Regions from separate parts of the Homo sapiens genome. Here region 2 is linked to region 1. The links come from fine-mapping of genetic effects on gene expression. A gene starts in region 1. The other region holds a variant in brackets. All regions are shown on one strand. Distances are from middle to middle. Region 1 holds the start of LINC02281 (long intergenic non-protein coding RNA 2281). Region 2 overlaps LINC01551 (long intergenic non-protein coding RNA 1551).

Region 1 (10,675 bases):
TTTTTTCCAGAAACCTGGAAAAATAAAAGTAGATTCTGCTGATCTCTGTCAGAGGCACAAACATGAGATTGTGAGAGATTAAGTGTCTTGCCCAAGATTACATCAATTAGTTGGTGGCAGCCAGGATTCAAATGTGATTTTTGCTCTGCCATAATTCCTAAAGTCTGTACATGATAAATTTGTCCTTAGAGATTTGCATGAAAAAAACTATGGTTAAATAAATCTGGGAGTCATTACATACTGTATCATTCTCTTAGAAATTTAGCTTGTCTAGTTACATACTAAAAGTTCTGCGAAGTTCTGGATTTAAAGGGAGGAAATTATGTTTAAATTGATTGATTCTTTCCTTCATTCAACAAATATGCATTAAACCCTCAGCAAATTCAAGGTGTTCTAGGCAAAAGAAAGAGCACATGCAAAGGCCTCAAGTCAAGAAAAAGCTGGCTTGTTAGAAGAATTTACAGAAGGCTAATAGTCCCAAAGTGTAGTAGGGGCATAAGAACAGTAAGAGATGAGGTTGTAGAAGGTGGCAAAGGCCATATCAAACAGGAATTAATAGATCATCAAAAGAAATTTGGATTTTTGTTCTAAATAGAAACAGAAGCCATTGAAATAGTCAGTCTGACAATAAATGTATTTGGCCGCAATCCTATTTATTCTCATAATATTTAAATAAACATGTTATGCTGCTTTACACTCTGCTGAGCCCCTTGCATTAGACCGGAAGGTGGAAACTGTTAGTGACCAAGATGGGTTTTTAGTCTATATAGTCATTATAGACCTAACACCTAGCATAGACCATTCAAACAGTAGCTACTCAATGAAGGATTTGTTGAATGAATTGAAATCATGAAGGGATAGACAGCTATTACATTTGACAAATGTTTAAAAGAAATAGAAATGTTTTACCCTGACATGTAGAAAACATATGATCAGGGAAGAAGACGTAAGCCTTCAAATTCACAGTGGTGCCAGAAGACAAATTAGACTCACCAAGTAAGCCTCAAGAAGGTGTACCTAGGAGCAATAAGAGGTAGTTATTGAGAAGCCGACAATAAAATGCACATGTCATGAAGTAGTGCATTTCTCATCACTTGATGTTGTCCAACAGAGAATAGAAAACAGTTATGGAGAATATCACAGGAAGGATTTCTTCATCAGTTGAAAGCTGGATTATATACTTTAAAAACATCTTTCAACCCTAAGATCCGGGATTCTATTTGCAAAGAATCTGAAGACAGAAAAGAGTAGGTGAATTGAGTGTGGCCAGAGAGAACTTCTGAACAACAAAAATGTGTAATTTAGCAAACTTTTATCTAAGAGAATAAAGGTAATTATTAAGTGTAAGATGTCAATATGAAGATATTATTCTACTCCCCAGTCTGACACTAATATAAAACAAACAAAAATAATAAAATGATAGAAAAACAATATCATCTATAAAGTCCATAAAACTCCCAGAACTGCAAGTCAAAAACCTGTAAAATCTGTCGGTAAAATTAAGGGAGAATTCCAAGAGTTGATACATACGTCCCCCGATTTCATGTAGGCAGAGACATAACCAGCCAACCTTTACCTACAATGACTCATTCTAAAACACAGGGAAGCCTGGGAAAATGAGGCATGGAAACTAATTTAGGGAAAACAGGATGTGAGGAAATGATCATGAGAATAAGCTCCTTGAGAATTCACAGAATCCTGAAAATATTTCTGACATAATACACAAGAAAATGTTAATAGTTGAAAATTTTAGGAGATGGGTTAGGTGTGTAGAAAAGGGAGTACTTCTAATTTCACTTCATACCTTTCTCTACTCTTGGAGCTTTTGTCAGTAAAGATTCATACAGTTTACATTTAAAACTAATTTCAGAGGGATAAAAATGATGAAAGTAATTTTATGCTGAATATATGGAAAATGATTTAAAGGAGACATATCTTTAGAGCTATTATAAATTTGAGTAAATGAGCAAATTAAGAGTTCTCTAAGGAGGAGGTAACAGAATAGACAATATAAAATGTATTCCACTTCTAGATTCTACAATCCTATTAAAAAAACAAGTTCCATTAACCTGAACTTTAAATTTGATTGGAACAATTATATTCTCACCACTCTGTAGGAACATCTGGTAACTAGTCAGAAATAACTTGTACTCATTAATAAAAGTCTAGCCCTCCCATAAACAATAAGCATAAGTACATGTACTAGGTTTAGGTCTAGGCTGAGCAACAGCAGAGATTCTAAGTGCATGTTCTTCCTATTCTCTAGAGTTTAGGTATGTTGCCCATGAGTAGTACCTTAAGACACAGATTTCAATGGAAAAAAAATATGAGTGAGTGAGAAGATATTTTTTCCAAATTCTAAAGTTCCGGTGGATTTCAGCTGATGAGCATATTTTGTCTTATGCTAAATGTATTACTTTGAAAATATTGTTGTGATTGCAAAATATTTTAAAGGGACATTTTCTTTTAATGCCATTTAAAGAAAATGACCTGGAGCTTTGCTGAAGTAATTCCATTGGCCTTTCTCTTTTAAGAAATCTACATTCCACCCAAAGCATCTGTAGGCTACAGAATATTATCAGACAACTAATACATCCCAATCAGACTGAATTTATTTATAGACAACGTTCTTTTTGCAATGTTAGATGCCTCATTAACTTGATTCAGCTTGTGCATAGCAAAAATATTCCCTCCCTCTTCAGATTTTTGATAGAGTGAATTATAATTTCTTGTCTCACTCATTATAAACCTTTAGTTTGGAGGACATTTCAGAAATGTGTAGTGCCACTTATGTTAATCCTGGATTACTTGTCCTGGATTAATTATGTGCTGTATTTGTTTTTCTTTGGAAGAAAAATGAAGTGGCATAGTGACCATTCTTACTTTTTACTTCACATGAAAAGTAAGTTAAAATTTAATTTTGCCATAAACATCCTAAAAGAAAATGGAATGCGAATTTGTATTGGAGTAGATTTCATTATTGTCATGATAGTGGAGGTAGGAGTGGGAAGCATCCTGGAGCCTTAATAATTCAGCTTACTTTTAAAATCTGTCTATCTGAGAGCAAAGCTAAGGACATACTGTGAAAAATGAACACATATAACTCCTGTATTATGATCCACATCTTCAAATTTTGAAATTTCCTTTTGAATATATCACTATGCAACTTTGGGTTACATGCTCTTTTAATTTGGTTTGCACTTCTGTAAGTGTGGGAGGGAAAGGATTTTTCTTTCCAAATCCTCCATTAGAATTATTTTAAATGTATCAATTTTAAATGAGGTTTAACAGGTTAAATTGAGCTCAGGAAAAAGATAATTATTTAAAATACTAACTTCTATTTATCTTAAATTCAACATTCCATTTTTTCAATGAATATTCCACAAATAAGTAAGTGTATTTGTTTGTTAATATGAAGTAGTCATAAATTATACTGGGAAATGTTTCCACATTTTGTTTTAAATAAGATGATAACTTTGTGAAGAGGAAGTTTTTTTCTTTAATCACAGTCTGCAATGTTTCAAATCTACAATTTATAATTTTAGTAATCTGTTGTATATACTGGGATATACCTAATATAAAAACATCCCGTATATAGTTTTTAATTGTCTGCCAGCTAAGAGAGAACACACTTACTATCTTGTGGTTCTGATACTATCATAATTATTTTAATCAAACTTCACCACAGAATTTAAAAAGTTATTTCATAGCTGCATCTAAATACTTGAAAATGCGCAACATGACTGGGAATACCTTGTTTCAGGACTTCTGTTTCTAGTCAAGGAAAGATGTAGAAAATCTTTTCACCCTGCAAACAGAAATTTTAAATGCTTTATTATAGGTATTATAAATAAACTTCTGTTCAAATGAAAGGATTAAAAGGATTTCTCTAAGTATTAAATCCCTTGTGTTATTAAAGAAGAAAAAAATAAGAAAAAATGATTTTTACAAGCACCTCCACTCGGGGCTTTGTAATCAAAGACAATAACGTTAACTAGGACTTTTTTTTCCTCTTTCAGACCATAAGCGGTCCTGAATCCATACTGTTTGATAAAAATTCTGATTCTCACAAGAATCTGGGGATTTGTACGAAACAGTATGACCTACGTTCATCAGATGGAATACTTTTCTTTGTGATGGGAAAAGGATTGGAGAACTGAAGTGGTTTAAAATTAAGATGGAGTTTCTAAACTTGTAAAATTGCTCTAGTGCATGCCAAATGGTTTGGAGTATGGTTTAAGCATATGTGACCGGCCTGTTGATGAGCTGTCTTTTTCAGGATACATATATGAAGTTATTTGTAAGCTGGTCCTAGAGAAACTTCAAGTTTACCTGATGATCAGGCTTTGAGACTTCAGGGCACATATGGCATGCCCAAACTAACGACCATCCTCTATTCTAATCACAGTTAAAGTCAGCTGTGGGAGGCTGCCGCCCTTGAATGGTTTATAATCAGCTTGAGACATGAAACTGACTCATTTCTGGAAGTGTGGGGGCTGTTCTTTCACTCTTTTCAGTACATGAATGCCACCATAAAATAAGATTAAATGCTCTGGGGTTTTCCCCGCTGTTTCCCTTCCCTATTTGTTACCTTTTCATGGTATGTGGGCTCATACTGTATTTATGTTTTCTTAGCTTCAAATTATCTCACTCACAATTTTGTATTAAACAGCCTGCTTTGCCCTACTTCTAAAATAGGACATACATTCCTATTATGTTATATTTTCATCACATTGTTTTAAAGAAATGAACACCTTAAAAGTAAATATGTATGATACTTAAACTCGTTAAAGTTAAGTATCTTCCTTGGTGTCCCAATCTATTCAATGTCATCTCCTGGGAGATTACTTGTGAGCTTCTTTCATGTTGTCTAAAGGTAGCTGTAAACTTGTTCTCTAAAATACTATTATTAAGAAATCCCATTGAAATTATAGGCTTTTTTCCTGAGGCTTCCAAACTTCAAGCTACAGAGTTTTATTTCCTTCTCTTAAAAATGTCTTTGGCCTCCTAAATTATAGACACACATCTTCTAGAATTTTATAGAGATTTACCTTACTTGAGTTATTGTTCCTACGGATTTTGAAAAATCTTTCAAAGATCTGTCCTACTTAAGTTGCTCTTGCCTTGAACTTCAGCTAATCTTCCTGAGCAATATCATAAGGTAAGAATCTGATATGACTCTATTAGTCTGAAAATCAGACCAAAAGGCAACTGACTTGTACATATGAAGTATACAGCTTATTGTTACGATAGAGCGAAATAAATATATGAAAAGATAAATAAAAAGGTACTTTTAAAAATGTTTACCTACCATGGACACAGGAACTGGTGAACTTTTTGAAGTCCCCCAAGTTCTTAGCACAGCACTGTTGTCAAGAGTGTTGGCGGGTCGCGGTGGCTCACGCTTGTAATCCCAGCACTTTGGGAGGCTGAGGCGGGGGGATCATGAGGTCAGGAGTTGGAGAACCGCTAGGCCAACACGGTGAAAGCCCGTCTCTACTAAAAACACAAAAAAATTAGCCGAGCGTAGTGGCGGGCGCCAGCAGTCCCAGCTGCTCCGGAAGCTGAGGCAGGAGAATGACGTGACCCCGGGAGGCGGAGCTTGCAGCGAACCGATATCGCGATACTGCACTCCAGCCTGGGCGACAGAGCGAGACTCCCTCTCAAAAAAAAAAAAAAAACTGTTAGGTATATATTACGGTATATATATTAAGGCAGACCTGGGTCGGTCTCATACTGGGTAAGGTGCTGCTAGTTCTTGCTATGGTAGAAAGATATATCAGGCTTTCAGCCGGGCACAGTGGCTCACACCTGTAATCCCAGCACTTTGGGAGGCCGAAGCGGGCGGATCGCGAGGTCAGGAGATAGAGACCATCCTGACTAACATGGTGAAACCCCGTCTCTACTAAAAAAAAAAAAAAAAAAAAAAAAAAAATTAGCTGGTTGTGGTGGCCGGGCCTATAGTCCCAGCTACTCGGGAGGCTGAAGCAGGAGAATCGCTTGAACCGGGCAGCAGTTGGAGGTTGCAGTGAGATGAGATCATGCCACTGCACTCCAGCCTAGCGACACAGCGAGACTCCGTTTCAAAGAAGAAAAATATGTATATATATATATATATATATATATATATATATATATATATGTATAGAGAGAGAGAGAGCAGGCTTTCTCTTGGTTTTAAGATTCTCCTGTCTTTTTTTTTTTTTTTTCCCGAGTTTCGCTCTTGTTGCCCAGGTTGGAGTGCAGTGGCGCGATTTCGGCTCACTGCAACCTCCACCTCCCGGCTTCAAGCGGTTCTCCTGCCACAGCCTCCCAAGTAACTGGGATTACAGGCATGCGCCACCACGCCCGGCTAATTTTGTATTTTTAGTGGAGACGGGGTTTCTGCATGTTGGTCATGTCTGGTCTCCAACTCCTGACCTCAGGTTATATGCCCACCTCGGCCTCCCAAAGTGCTGGGATAACAGGCGTGAGCCACCGCGCTGGGCCAAGATTCTCTCATCTTTAGCACAGTGTCTCTGCCTCTTACCTGCCCTGGATTAATTGCTCCATCTGAATAACTGGTTTCTGCATGCTTCTCAGTTTCTAAGCAGTCACTCAACTCTGACACTTCTGCTTCCTCTTTAACCAGTATCCTTAACATTCTCCCTCATTTTTGACAATGTACTCATCCTGATTATGCAAATGATTACAAATCTCTATCTGAGATATTTGAATCTATAGTTTTAATCTCACAGCACTGATCATCCAGTACCTACAGTACATTCAAGTTATAAGTTCCATGGAGGTAAAAATTCTCTAACTTGTAACTGTATAAAGGCATTAAAGCATGACACTCTAAAGGCATTAAAGAATCAACAAAAGAATGATACTTCTGGTATGAATATAGCTGCAGAAATCAGGATTCTGCATTTCTTTTCTCAAAAATAATTGAAAATAGAAAAAATTTTTAATAATCATGCGGAACTCCAATTTTTGGCAAATTGGAAGACATTTATAATCATAGCTTCCAAATTGATGAAAGAGATCACAAAAGCTATATGGGATAAAACAAAAATTAAAAACCGTAGAGAGGAATATAAGCAAAGAGGGAGCCTTATAATATCAAATCTCAAAATTTTCTGGCAAAAGATATACTTCCTGAAGAGGAGGGATAAGCCCAGAAATGCAAAAATCTATCATCTTATTTCTGCTATGGGTGCATGAACTGGAGTAAGATAGACTGGCAGCAATAGCATTACTGGACCCAGTCTGGTTCCAAGAATAGAGGAAGCAATAATATACAAATAATGACACAGACACTGCACATGTTCTAAAGGCGTTTTTCTGTGGTATTTGAGTAGAAAGGAGACTTTTTGTTGTGAAAGCCAGAAAAATTACATATCAATTCCTATTGTTCTCCAGCACAAAAATCTCTTGCACATATTAAGAAATACAAAATAATTCAACAATAGATACTGAAAAATAGGAAGACATTAAAGGAGGAAGAAAGTAAAGTACAGGCAACAAAAGAGAAGAATACTTAACAGGAAAGCATGAAACAGCAAGTAAAATCATAGCAAATATTTTAGCAAGCATTTTAAAATATTTTATAAAGCAAACTCCACTATGAAGGAAGACACAAAGCAGAAAGACAGAACTCAAAGAATAGACAGCAAAACAATAAAAGAAAATAAATTGCAAACTGGCAGGATTTGGAAAAGAATTAGAAGAAAAAAAGCTGTCACTGATTATGACAGAATTCAGTACAGTACATGGGGTTTATGCTTCTGTCATGATAGGGTGAATGGAGCAAGACTTAATTGTGCACTATAACCAACTAGAAAAATAGAAAAAATAATGCAAATAAAGAGTTTGCAGACATCCTACAACACATATTATATGATTATAGTCAGTAAGAGAAGAAAAAAAATTTAGGTGAGTCTTGTAATCAAACTGGATTTCTCCACCGAAGAACTTTCTGAACCACATTGTCAGGAGGTAGATTCCAAGCAGAGCTAGGTGGTTACACTGAGTTGTGTAGACAGAGATCAGAGTGCTTAGAGTTTTTGAGCCTGAAATTCTGAATGGAAGACAACAGGAAAGGAGAGAACATATAAATAAGTAAATCAGGAAATCTTTACAATCATCTCAGAGTCAGTTGCTGAACACTAAGTCATGCGTATATAGGCCAAGGCAAAAAGCAAAAAGGAAGCTGTGTGTCAAACAATTTCCAGCTCTTACGCAGCTCTGGGAAAAGTTCAAGTTCTCAGAAGCCAGAGTATACATTATTCACTGAATACTCAGAACTTTCTGTAAAAATACCAAGAGGGCTATAGTAGGCATACAGTAAAGATTGTTCTAAATTCACCCTACTAAAGCCTTAAAGAAGGGCTAGAATGGACAAAACTGGACTGCAAGAAACTTAACTGCCTGCCAGAACAAAGAGCAACATATTTTGAAGGAAGACAAAAAATATGACACTCAACAGCATGAAATTCATAATGTCCAGCACTCAATCAAATACTGTTATATACATGGAAAAGCAGGAAAATTAAATCCACATCTAGGAGAAAAACCAGTCACTACAAATAGATCACAAATGACAGAAATGAGGAAATTAGCAGACACCAACATTTAAAAACCTACCAAAACACGGCTCAAGCATGTAAAGAGTAACATGAACATAATGAAGGAACACATAGAATGTAGGACAAAAAGTGTCAAACTTCTAGAGAAATAAATGTATTAAAGAATAAATTCACTGGATGAAATTAACAGTAGATTAGGCATGATAGGAAAAATATCAATGAACTTGAAGACAGTGGTAGAAACTATCCTAAATACAGATCAGAAAGAAAAAAGTCTAAAAAAGAATAAGTAATGAAGTCCCAGTAACTTGGAAAACGATATTAACTGCTGTAACATTAGTATAATTGGAATTCATGGAACAGGTGAGACACTGAGGGTCAGAAAAAATATTGGAAGTAATAATAGCCAAAATATTTACAAATTTAATAAAAATAAGAAATCTTCAGGAACAAAATTAATAAACTCCAGTAAGATAAACACAAAGAAAAACATACCAAAGTACAACAGGAGGGAGTTGTTAAAACCAGTAATAAAAAGAAAATCTTAAAAGCACCCAGAGGAAAATAGACATATTGCATACAAAAGAACAAAGACAAACATGAATGCACACTTCCAGTCAGAAACTATTGAAATCAGAAGACAGCGAAACATTTTAAAGTGCTGAAAGAAAAAACAATCATTTCAAGCTATAATTCTATATCCCCAGAAAAAAAATCCTTCAAAACTAAAGGGAAAATGGACATTTCTTCAGGCAAAGAGTTAATCTATATATTTTTTAAGTTAATAAAAGATTTCAGGGAGCTAAATATATATATATACACACACATATCTATATCTATATCATATATATATATATATATATATATATATATATATATATATATATATACCAAATGGAAACTTGTACCTATATAAAAGAATGGTGAGTACTTGAAAGGGTAAATATTTTGATGAATATACTTTTCTTTTTAAAGATTTCTTTAATTTCTTTAAAGTTGAGTATGTAAGGCAAATATAGAAACAAAATTGATTGAAATTTTATGTAGAAATAAAATGTGAGACAAAAATGGCACAAAAAAAGGGTGGGATGGAAATGGTATAATATTATTTGAAGATACTCTGTGATAAAAGTGTATCAGTCAGGGTTCAGTCATGTCAAAGAAACCATATAGAGTAAGTATAAGATAAAGTTTGAACAGCGTAAGTATAATATAAAGAAAACATTAAAATCTGTTGTGTTTAGTTGTGTAAAGAAGCAGATGGAAGGGATATGAAAGGAAGTAACACTGTTCTGACTATGTCTTTTTGAATAATTTTCATTTTGGAAGTATTCTTCATGTTCAAAAACTTAAACTAAATCAATATTTAACAAGAATGGGGAAAAGATCTAAAACTAATGCAAACAAAAACAAATGAACCCAACTGTAATTCCAAATAAAAAATACTAAATACACTGAAAAGAAAAAATAAAAGAACTAATACAAGTAACTTTTGATCACAAGTATTTTGATTATACACTCTCAATCCAGGTTAAAAAAAAACAGAACTGTTAAGAAATCTTGAACTCTTATTAGTAGGTTTGTTGTAGTACAGATGATTGAACAAATGAGCTGATGTTATTGCAAGTGAGGGTTTCCACTGTGGAGGCAGGGAGATAGAAATATAGAAAAATCTTGTAGGTTTGGTTTGCAAGTGAAAGTATTAATATGAACTTTTACTTTACTTAGATATATACATACACACATGCATATAAATATCATAGCTCTGTTTGTTGGAGAGGTCAAGAAGTAATAACACACCAACAATGAACATAATTTCTGCTCAGATCTTGTTTTCTAAATGCTATTTTCCACTAAAGATACCAGGGGAAGGTCAGGGGAAGTTCAACATGAGTCTGGATGATCTTGTTGAGTCAGGGGGATAGTGCTTAAAAAGTGATGTCAAGAACCCCTAGAATCCAGCCTGTAGGGTCTTCCATTGAATAAATCCAGGAAAATTTGAGCATCAAAACAAATAAGGTGGTAATAGAATGTAACCCAAAGATTAAAATATGAATCCATAAGTCTATACTGAAGAAAGACAGAAGGAAGGAAAGAAGAAGAAA
Region 2 (10,675 bases), 38 kb after region 1:
ATTTCTAATTAAATAACTAATGTATTTATGAACATTCATTTTCAACTTTTATTTATTTAATAAAGGCTAAAGTTGGTTAGGCTGGCATAAAAAACAAAATTATGATGTTACAATGAACTCTCTAGCCTCCTTTAATTTGCAAACAGGTAATTATATGAAAAATTATAAAATGCATGCACTAAAAAGCAGTTGGAAAAAAACAAATATTTTATATAAGAATTAATAGTGCTATAATCACTAGAAGCAGAAGTATGTACATGAATGTATAATCATCTAAAGAATGTCAATCTTTTGTTTCTTTTATTTCAGGAGGCCATAATCCCAAACAAATTAATGCAGTGATAGAAAACCAAATACCTCACGTACTCACTTCTATGTGGGAGCTAAACATTGAACACATATGGGAACAATAGACACTGCAGACTACCAGAGTGGGGAGGTCGAGATGGGAGTGTGGATGGAAAAACTACCTATTGGGTACAATGCTCACTGACTGGAGGCAATGTATTCATGTAACAAGCCTGCACATGTACCCTGTACCGAAAATAAAAGTTGAAAAAAAAGTCTTTAACTTCACTTAATAACTAAAATGGCCATTTAAAACTGTATCTAAATATGTATCACAAACATGTCTTTTATTAAATATGGATAATAAGGGATATTTTAATCTCTATTAAAAATATCAAAATATAATGCCAGTTTCATATATGCATATTAATTATGAGAAAATAATTAAAATAGTGATTTCTTACAAAGTAGTATCAATATAGTTGAAAATACTCTCAGTGGAAAGGAAACCATTAAATATACACAACGAGTCTCCAACAGATTATTGGTATTAATAAGTAAATTGTTTAGAGTGCTATTTGTTATTATTTGGAATTTATTAGGCAAAGTGTCAAATAAGCAGGCAATATGAATCTCTTTCCTTAACCATAATGAGTAAACACTGTCATGGAAACATTAAAAGTCTTTCATTTGGAAAGACCCCAAGAATTCATGAGCTGAAAGGGTTTTAATATAGGGAACTCTCATCAGTAAAGTGGAACTTTTGAAAAAGCATATTTTGGAGAATCATAGTAAAGTTTTACATTGTTTGTAAAGTTTAACGTCACAGCAATTCTTCATAGAAAAAAATCTTAAATCTAAGATTGTCAATCCACTTCTTTTCGAGTATTGTAGTCACTTAGAAATAGCAGTTAAAATTGAAAAAAAACCTCTTAAAAGCATTGACTTTTATACTTCATTCCAACTAAACAATTCACTATTTACTTATTTCACAGTTAATCTCTATGCTAAATCTGAAAGTATGCTCTCAATAACAACTATAATAAAAGAATGTTGGGATAATGACACAAGATGATAAAAGCAAGGAAATGCTCATTTAAGGATATAATCTCTGTCATATATACGAGCTTTAAGTAGAAATGAGGTAGGATAAATGCTTCACAAAAAGTTATCCAGAGAATTCCTATAGAACAAAGACTTATCAAAAGGTGATACTTTCCAATCCTTGTTGACAAAGACTTTCTAATATAAGATATATTGTTCTATAAAACTATGTGCAAATTAATTTCCTAGGCAAGAGTTCCTCACCATCTTTAGGTAACTGAAAATTTATAGAAGAATCGTAAAACTAATTTTGTTAGTGGCAGTGTTTGGTTAATTAGTAGGGCAGAAGTAATGCTGTGTGGTCAGCAAACCCATTTTTTTTTTCCTTCAGATAGGATCTCACTCTGTCACCCAGGCTGAAGTGCAGTGGCACCATCATGGCTCACTGCAGCCTTAACCTCCCGTGCTCAAGCAATTTTCTCGCCTCAACCTCCTGAGTAGTTGGGTCTACAGGCGCATGTCACCACGTCTGGCTAGTTTTTTAATTTTTATTTTTTGTAGACACATGGTCCCACTATGTTGCTCAGGCTGGTTTCAAACTCTTGGATGCAAGGTATCCTCCCATCTTTGCCTCTCAAAGTGCTGGGATTACAGGCGTGAGCTACTGTGCCAGCCCATTTCTTTTTCCTCCAAAATACACAGCTAAATTATATTCCCACACCTCCCCTGCAATTAGGTTGGGCCATGTGGTTGACTTCAAGTTAATGGGATTAAGGAATTATCCTGCTGGCTCTCCAATAAGCTTTCTTCCCTCCTTACCCAATGTTGTGTATCCTTTGGAAGACTCCAAAGCCCTAAAGAATGGCAGAGTCACTTCCAGGGTTCCTGAATGACTAAATGGGACTCAATGAAACAGATTCACCCCACTCTTCACCCAACTTGCACTGGAATGTGATATGAGGGAATAATAAGTCTTGATAGTATTAAGCCATTGAGAGAGATTTGGGAGAGTCTAGAAGATTATTCATTCATTAATTTATTCCTCAAATATTATAAATGATAAAGAATTACAAAAAATAAATATAAGATCTGATACTTCAGAGGACGGCAATGGCGGGACCGTAATCTATCTAAATATTAGAGTGGAAATAATTTCTAGAAACTATATGATCTCGAGTATTCTGCAATTGGTCCCTGTGAAAATTTTGCTGCCCAAATCATATCCTGAATCAACATCATCTTATTATGATAATAATATTATTACTCTTAGTGATAAAATGTCGAGGCATTATTTTACATTCATGTCCATACTCTGGGCACAGTGCTAAGCATTTATGTGAATTATTTATTTTAATTTTGAAGTGACCGTACGAGGGAATTTTAATAATACACTCTTTACACTGAGGAAATTGATGGTATAAAAGTAAAGGTGATCTCACATCAAATAAATAGTGAATCCAGGATTCAAAAGAAAGTTTTTGACTCTATGGCCATTCTTTAAAGGTAGACAATTGCATTGTGGGTGATATTTGGTTCCAACAAATTATTGTTTGAACAATGATAACTTATTTCAACAATTCTCCTACCCATGTAGTTGTATGTGCACTTTGTATATCACAGAAAAGGCTAGCAAGAAAACCTGAAGTTGACAAATTTATTATAATCCTGGCTTTACCCCTCATACTGGATACTTTACACCCTGACGTTTATCAACATGCCAAAAAATTATCCATCAAATGGGGGTACACAGCAAAGAAATCACAGGTTGGGCTCCATGGCTCATGCCTGTAGTTCTAGCACTTTGGGAGGCCAAAGCAGGCTGATTGTTTGAGCCCAGGAGTTCAAGTCAAGCCTGGACACCATGGCACAACCCCTTCTCAACAAAAAATACAAAAATTAGCCGAGCGTGGTGGAGCATGCCTGTAGTCCCAGCTACTCAAGAGGCTGAGGCTGGAGGATCACTGGAGCCTGGGAGGCGGACACTCCAGCCTGGACAACAAAATGAGATTCTGTTTCAAAAATAAAAATAAAAATAAATAAATAAAGAAAAAATGAAATTATAATGTTTTACCCAGAAATTATTCATTTATGACAAATTGTTATGAGAAAAACCTCACTAAAGGCCAGGATCATTGCTCACTAAAATGTTTCTACCATTATAAATAGTATATTTGAAATTTGTGTGATTAGTTTATTTTCTTTTAATCTTTTCTGAGACAGGGTCTTCCTATCTTGCATGAGCCAGAGTGCAGTAGTGCAATCAGCTCACTGCTACCTTGAACTCTTGGGCTCAAGAGATCCTCCCACCTCAGCCTCCCAAGTAGCTAGGACTACAAGCATGTGCTACCATGTCTGACTAATTTTTTGGGGGGTAGAGGGGGATAGAGACAGGGTCCTACCATGTTGACTTAGTTGGTCTCAAACTCCTGGCCTCATGTGATCCTCCTGTCTTGGCCTCCCAAAGCACTAGGATTACAGACATGAGCCACTGTACCCAGCCCTGACTGATGTATTTTCTAAGAACACAGCTACTTTGACAGCTAAATAATAATCCAGAATGTTGTTTGAAAAACAAGAATTCTGAATGAAAAATTTTATGGATAGAACATTTAATAACATCAAGTTTAATTAGCCTGATATTAATTCACAATAGTAGTGGCCTTGTCACTGGGACTGAAGTCCAGTGGAATAAAGTCCCCACCCTCGTCTCTGAATCATATTTGAGTAGGGAATTCTTACGCTGTTTCTGGCTTTTCTTTAGTAGCTTTCATGGCTAAATTTTTTTTTCTGTAAATATGTAATAGCTTCTATTAGTTTTTGTTAAAGCCTGCTGGATAGGAATTAATCTGTTAAGATAACTTTGCACATATTTTGCTGATCTATTTTGTTAAATCTGCAATTTTAACAACCAAAGGGCAATCTCATTTTGTGTTCTTTATTTCAAATTTCTTGCTCGTGCCTTTCTCATTATAATCTATAAGAATCAACAAGAACTGAAAATAATTTCAGGACAAGAGAATGTACACTGAAAAATCCTGGCTATCTATGAGAAATGAGTGAAGATAAATAATTGCAGCTGTTCTCTTTTTCTTTCACTTAAGGTAGAAACAGTGTGTTCACAGAATTCAGTTAATTATTACAATACACATCTTGATTACCATACCAAAACTCTCCAAATTCTTCCTATAAGAGGTACAATGTTTCTTTATAATGGTGCCAAACTGGTACCAATGGTAGGCAACAACTGCTGCACTGGAAGGAAGTAGTTCATAACTAAAAGCTAATATACAGTGTCAGAGAAAAGTGGTGCTACATCAGTTGCACTCCATCAATAAAAAAACTAGGTCTGTTCAAGCTTTATGCTGCCACAGTGCCGTGAACTTCAAGAACATTATCCAGTGGCTATAGTCTTAGTGTTCCTTTTTCCAACTAAGCAAATGCCAAGAGGAGTGCCTTCCCACAAACAAATGTGTAGGTGACAGTAAATGCAATAATAAGACTAATTAATCCACTGGGTGCTTCAAAAGTGGAATGAGTCAGCCCGACAGAAACATATAATTTTTTTTTTTTTTTTTTTTGAGACGGAGTCTCGCTCTGTCGCCCAGGCCGGACTGCGGACTGCAGTGGCGCAATCTCGGCTCACTGCAAGCTCCGCTTCCCGGGTTCACGCCATTCTCCTGCCTCAGCCTCCCGAGTAGCTGGGACTACAGGCGCCCGCCACCGCGCCCGGCTAATTTTTTGTATTTTTAGTAGAGACGGGGTTTCACCTTGTTAGCCAGGATGGTCTCGATCTCCTGACCTCATGATCCACCCGCCTCGGCCTCCCAAAGTGCTGGGATTACAGGCGTGAGCCACCGCGCCCGGCCTGAAACATATAATTTTTGTTCCTTTATTATTATTTCTTCTTTACCTGTGGAGCCAGAGGCAAGGAAGATGACCAAGAATTCAGACATAGGAGAGATCTGGATAAACTTAGGAACCTGTCTAATAGTTTAGACCCTGGAAGATACTGTAGAGGAAAGTTGTTTATTGTTGTTGTTTGTTTGTTTGTTTTTTTTAGTGCTGAAGTAACTTTCTCTGGAGACACATCATGAGCACTGTAAAGAACGTTGTTCTTCCCCAAATGCCTTTCTTCCTGGATCCAGCTACTTTTCTTTGAGTTGGAGAACTCATACTTGAAAATCTCTGATTGACAACAGCACACTGATGAGTAGATATTATTGGATGGGAAGCTGATGATCATGCCAGCCTTCACTGTATTGACTAATGAAAAACCTCTGAAAATAACAACATGAAAAGGACAAGGAAAAAGATTATCAGTATAGAAAAGGCAAAATTTCTTAATAAGAGAAATAAAGATAAAAACCTGATTACCAAAGCAA[G/A]AACAATTTTAAGGTATATTAATACCACGTTTGCAATTTTAAAATTGTTATGGTGATTTGCTATGTTGTTAAGTTCACCAAGTTTTATTTTTTATTATAGAGTTAATTTAATTGATAATAAAATGAAAGAAATTTTATTTAAATAAGTATTGTCTATCATGTCACCATAAAAATTTGGTAAGGTCTGAATACTCAAGCTATTTCAGTAAAGCAAAGAAAGGTAAATTACTTGTGCATAACCGAGCAGGTGCAATGTTATCCCACACACACACAAAAATATGATTAAATAAATAAAAGGAGCCAGATGCAGTGGCTCACAGTACTTTGAGAGGCTGAGACAGGTGGATCACCTGAGGTCAGGAGTTCGAGACCAGCCTGGCCAACATGGTGAAACACCATCTCTACAAAAATACACAAACACACACACACACACACACACACACACACACACACACACACAGTAGCCAGGCATGATGGCAGGTGCCTGTAATTGCAGCTACTCGGGAGGCTGAGGCAGGAGAATCGCTTGAGCCCAGGAGGTAGAGGTTGCAGTGAGCCAAGATCATGCCACCGCACAATAGCATGGGTGACAGAGCGAGACTCCATCTAAAAAAAAAATAAACAAATAAATAAAAGGAATTTAAAAGAGAAAATTCCAAGGAAGTCTTGGAAAAAAAAAATCTTACAGATTCTACACATCTAATTGTATTACTGTATTTGATTATTAGCAATGGTACAACTATAAAAGATATGACAATACAAACCAAACTCAGCAACTATATGGTTTCATTTGATTCTGCTTAAAAAGTTTCTGTAGTCAGCAACAAGATGAGCCATATTAATGGAGAGAAATCAGAAGAAACACAAAATTCTAAAAGAAAAAATACATATACTCCAAAGAAAAACTGGAAGAAACAGCTGACAAAACACTTAAAATAAGAGATCACTGCTATCTGGCTAAACTAATGAGTGGGAAAATAACTCAAAGAAGAATGAAAACTTTATTATGTCTCCACTACTAATGAACAATAGCTTGGGATACTTGTCTAAAAACTGTACTTTTTTTTTTTTTTTTTTTGAGACAGGATCTCTTTCTGTTGCCTAGACTGGAGTGGAGTGGCACAATCATAGCTCATTGCAGCCTTGACTTCCAGGGCTCAAGTGATCCTCCTACCTCAGCCTCTGCAGTAGCTGGGATCACAGGTGCACACCACCTCAAAAAACTGTACTTTTGGACAATGACTTTTGGTTAGTGGTTGTTTTGAACTCTGTAACTTAATAGTATGTGCATAATAAATAAATAAATAAATAATGGGCCAGTAAACTTTTCCTGATTACTTTCAAGAAAGAATCTGAAGCTTGATTATAATGGTGGAGGAAGCTTCCATTTTAGAGAATAACTTGTTAGTCCTATGTAATTATATTCTGAGAGACAAGATTTGACTTTCAAGTCCCAAAAAGTCATTATCATGATGCTCTACTTTAGTCATGTAACTGCAGATTTGTAAGAGTTTTCTTTTTTAAAAACAGGAAATCAAAAGGAATAAAGTACTAGCCAAATTGACAATGATTTCTTTAAATTTATGGGAAACGCAGTGCCTGTAGTTCATTATTTCAGTGACACATTTGGTTTGTCTTGTCAATAACTATTAAATGGGGGCAGTATATAAAGACGAAGAAGCATTTCATCTTTTTCCATCAGAAAAAGAAAATGCATTTATCCTGTGAATTACCTGTACTATTTCATGCATAGCACCTGTATTGCTGCCACACATCTGTGGAAACACAATATCAGCCAACTGTTAATCAAGGATCACTTCCCTTCAAAGTGACTGATGATCCACTGTTAAAACAGCTTATAAAAATAACTTCTTTGAAAAGGTGCTTCAGGGTTTTCAGACACATCTTACCAGTCCTGCTAGCTTAATGCATGTTTGAAAGTTAATTTCTCATTAATATTTAAAGAAGAAATGGCTTCAGAACAAAATTTAAATAATCCATTTTATTTTAGAAATACAACATTATTGGCATTATTTTCATTTCGATTACAAGGAGTGATAATGTCCAAGATTGGCTTTTAAAACTGTTAATGAGCCCTGGCAATGCGAAAAAGATATGGATTAGGTAGATGTAATGAGATATGATTAAAGGGTGCAGGCACTGAAGGGTGTTGGAGAAATTCTATTCAGAAAGCGTATAATTAGTGTCTGATAAAACTACTTAGTAGATAAGGTTTTTGAAGAAGAAAGGTTAAGATAAACACATACTTTATGACAAACCTGTTTAATTTTTCCCCTTTGGTTCTCTTACATACTCAATATTATGTTGAAGTTTCATACATAAATAATGTTTGTCGAATACTTGATGCAATTCTACCAGACAATTAGAGTGTTTTAATTGCCAGACAGGAGAGAAGAAAATGTGTTGAAACATCTTATTCCATTTTCAGTGTACATTTCTTTGTTGATTTATGTAATGTGGCTAATAATATGCAACCTATCCAGGTTTTAAACAAACAAATGAACTTCTAAAAAGCAAGCTTTCCATAAGTTGCTAAGCAACTCCAAAGGCACATTTTATTAATTTAATAAATAACATTTAGATGAAGACAAATCCTTAAGAAGATTTCTAACTTTATTTTATAAAAAGTAGAAAATCCAAGCAGGTACCCTTCTGATTTTCTTGTCTCTAAGGCCTCAGGGGTAGGCAAAGTTACTGGGATATTCAGTTATATTTGTCTCACTAAGCAAAACATTTCTTCGATTGAAATTGTTGCCATAATAGAAGTTAAGACCTGGGACTCATGGTGCAGCTCTCCAGAGTTGGAGCTCATGCTTCATTCCCATAACTGAGGGTTTTCCAAGCTCAGAATGACTGACATTTTGGACATAGTAGTCTGTGGTTATGGGGGTCCATCCTGTGAATTTAACATGTTCAGCAATACACTGGTCATCTATCTACCAGACGTCAGTAGTGGCCCCAGAGGTGCTGTAACTAAAAAATGTCTCCAGACATTGTGAAAAGTCTCCCAGGGGAGGAAAGGGACAAAAATCACCCCAGTTGAGAACCACTGCAATTGCATAATGGGTGGATATGCTAAATGCAAAAAAAAAAAAAAAATATCTAGAGCTTAACTGGTGATGAAAATATTTTGGGGTTAGTTGCCTTCTCTCAATGTCTAACATCCCCTGTCACTATCAATAATGAAGAATAAGGGGGTAGTACTGATTCCAGTGGTACTCTGGCTTTTGTTCTATGCAAGATTCATTCCTGATTTCATCATTTCAATGCAATTTCAATTGTATAAAAATTGAGGAGAAGGGACGTAATGATAGCTCTGACTATAGCCATTCTCTAACAGTACCACATTCCAGAACTGCACTAATCTTTTCTCCTGCAATTTTCCCTATATTCAGTTGCTGGCTAGAATCTTTATTTATTTATTTATTTATCTTATTGAGACAGTCTTGCTCTGTCGCCCAGGCTGGAGGTCAGTGGCACAATCTCAGATACACTGGTAGCCGCTGCCTCCCCGGTTCCAGCTATTCTCCTGCCTCAGCCTCCTGGGTAGCTGGGATTACAGGCTCATGCCACCGCACCTGGCTAATTTTTGTATGTTTAGTAGAGACAGGGTTTCGCCATGTTGGCCAGGCTGGTCTCGAACTCCTAACCTTAGGTGATCCGCCCACCTCGGACTCCCAAATTGCTGGGATTACAGGCATGAGCCACAGCGCCCAGCCTAGAATCATTTTTAAAATAAAACTCAATTTTAGTAATGTCATCCTCTGCTCGTAGGGCCACCATGGGTCTTTATTACCTCTACTATCAAATAGAAACTCCTCTGAATGGTCTTTAAGTTTTCCTTCAATTTACCACCAAACTCCATCTCATCAAACGTCTTTCTCATCTTTATTTATGCCCCCTTTATTCTTCTTACACACAATCAACTTGCATATTCCAATCTCCACGTGTGACATATACAGGACAAATTCATTTCCTAAAGTTTTACTAATTATTCCTTCCTTTACTTCTTATCAATATCATATTCTACTATAAGAATGACAGGACTGCAATTATTGTGAGGTAATTATTTACTGAATGCCTTCAATATGCCAGACACCGAATATGGGTTAGTAGCTGTTTCTATCAATTTACATTTCATTATTTTGCCCAACCAGATTGTAAGTTCCCAGAGGGTAGGAGCAGGTCTTATTTGTATCCCTCTGACACCTCTTAATAATGATGCTAATAAATATGCTTTATATTGACTTGCAACTATAACATTTCAAATCACTGTCATGATTACTAGCTCACTGGTTATATATTTTGAGTATTTTACAGTCAATGAACGTGGGTCATTAAATGCTCTAGGGAACAGACTGTGGATTACACAACCAGTGCTGAGTAGATATGCATTTAAAACATGATGAGCAACTGAATTCAGTCTCACAACTTCACAACTCTTAACTGGTTACAAAAAAAATTCTTTTGGCATTTAAACATAAAAGTTATTATAGAGAACAAGAACTGCCGAATGAGGCAGAAGACAACACGGAAGTGAATTAAACTATAATACAGCAGCAGGAAAAATAAAAGAGGAGTCGTCGTTTCTGCCTCAAATTCACTACAAGAATTTAAATTCATTTCATAAGGTCTTGACCTCTTATCAAATAAAGCTGTTTTAAAAGAAAGCAAAATGCTGGGCACAGTGGCTCATGCCTGCAATCTCAGCAGTTTGGGAGGCTGAGGCGGGAGGATCACTTGAGGTCAGGAGTTCAAAACCAGCCCGGCCAAAATGGCAAAAGCCCGTTTTTACCAAAAACACAAAAATCAGCCAGGCGTGGTTGTGCACACATATAATCCCAGCTACTCAGGAGGCTGAGGCAGGAGAATCGCTTGAACCCGGGAGGCGGAGGTTGGTTGCAGTATGCCAAGATGGCACCACTGCACTCCAGCCTGGG

What was found.
Region 2: its variant is fine-mapped to the expression of LINC02281 in testis (GTEx, PIP 0.99).

Annotation. Positions count from the first base shown.
Region 1 is chr14:28,825,139-28,835,813 of GRCh38, reverse strand. LINC02281 (long intergenic non-protein coding RNA 2281) reads left to right here and starts at 5,661. Exons shown (of 4, transcript NR_187181.1): 1 at 5,661-5,740. It overlaps LINC02327 (long intergenic non-protein coding RNA 2327), which reads right to left and starts at 5,579. Exons shown (of 4, transcript NR_184199.1): 1 at 5,312-5,579; 2 at 3,754-3,808.
Region 2 is chr14:28,786,814-28,797,488 of GRCh38, reverse strand. It overlaps LINC01551 (long intergenic non-protein coding RNA 1551), which reads right to left. Exons shown (of 3, transcript NR_026731.1): 3 at 2,695-5,609. Among named protein-coding and RNA genes, the nearest start is that of LINC02282, 6.4 kb to the right of the region's middle. The variant G/A (reference allele first, on the strand shown) is at 5,715.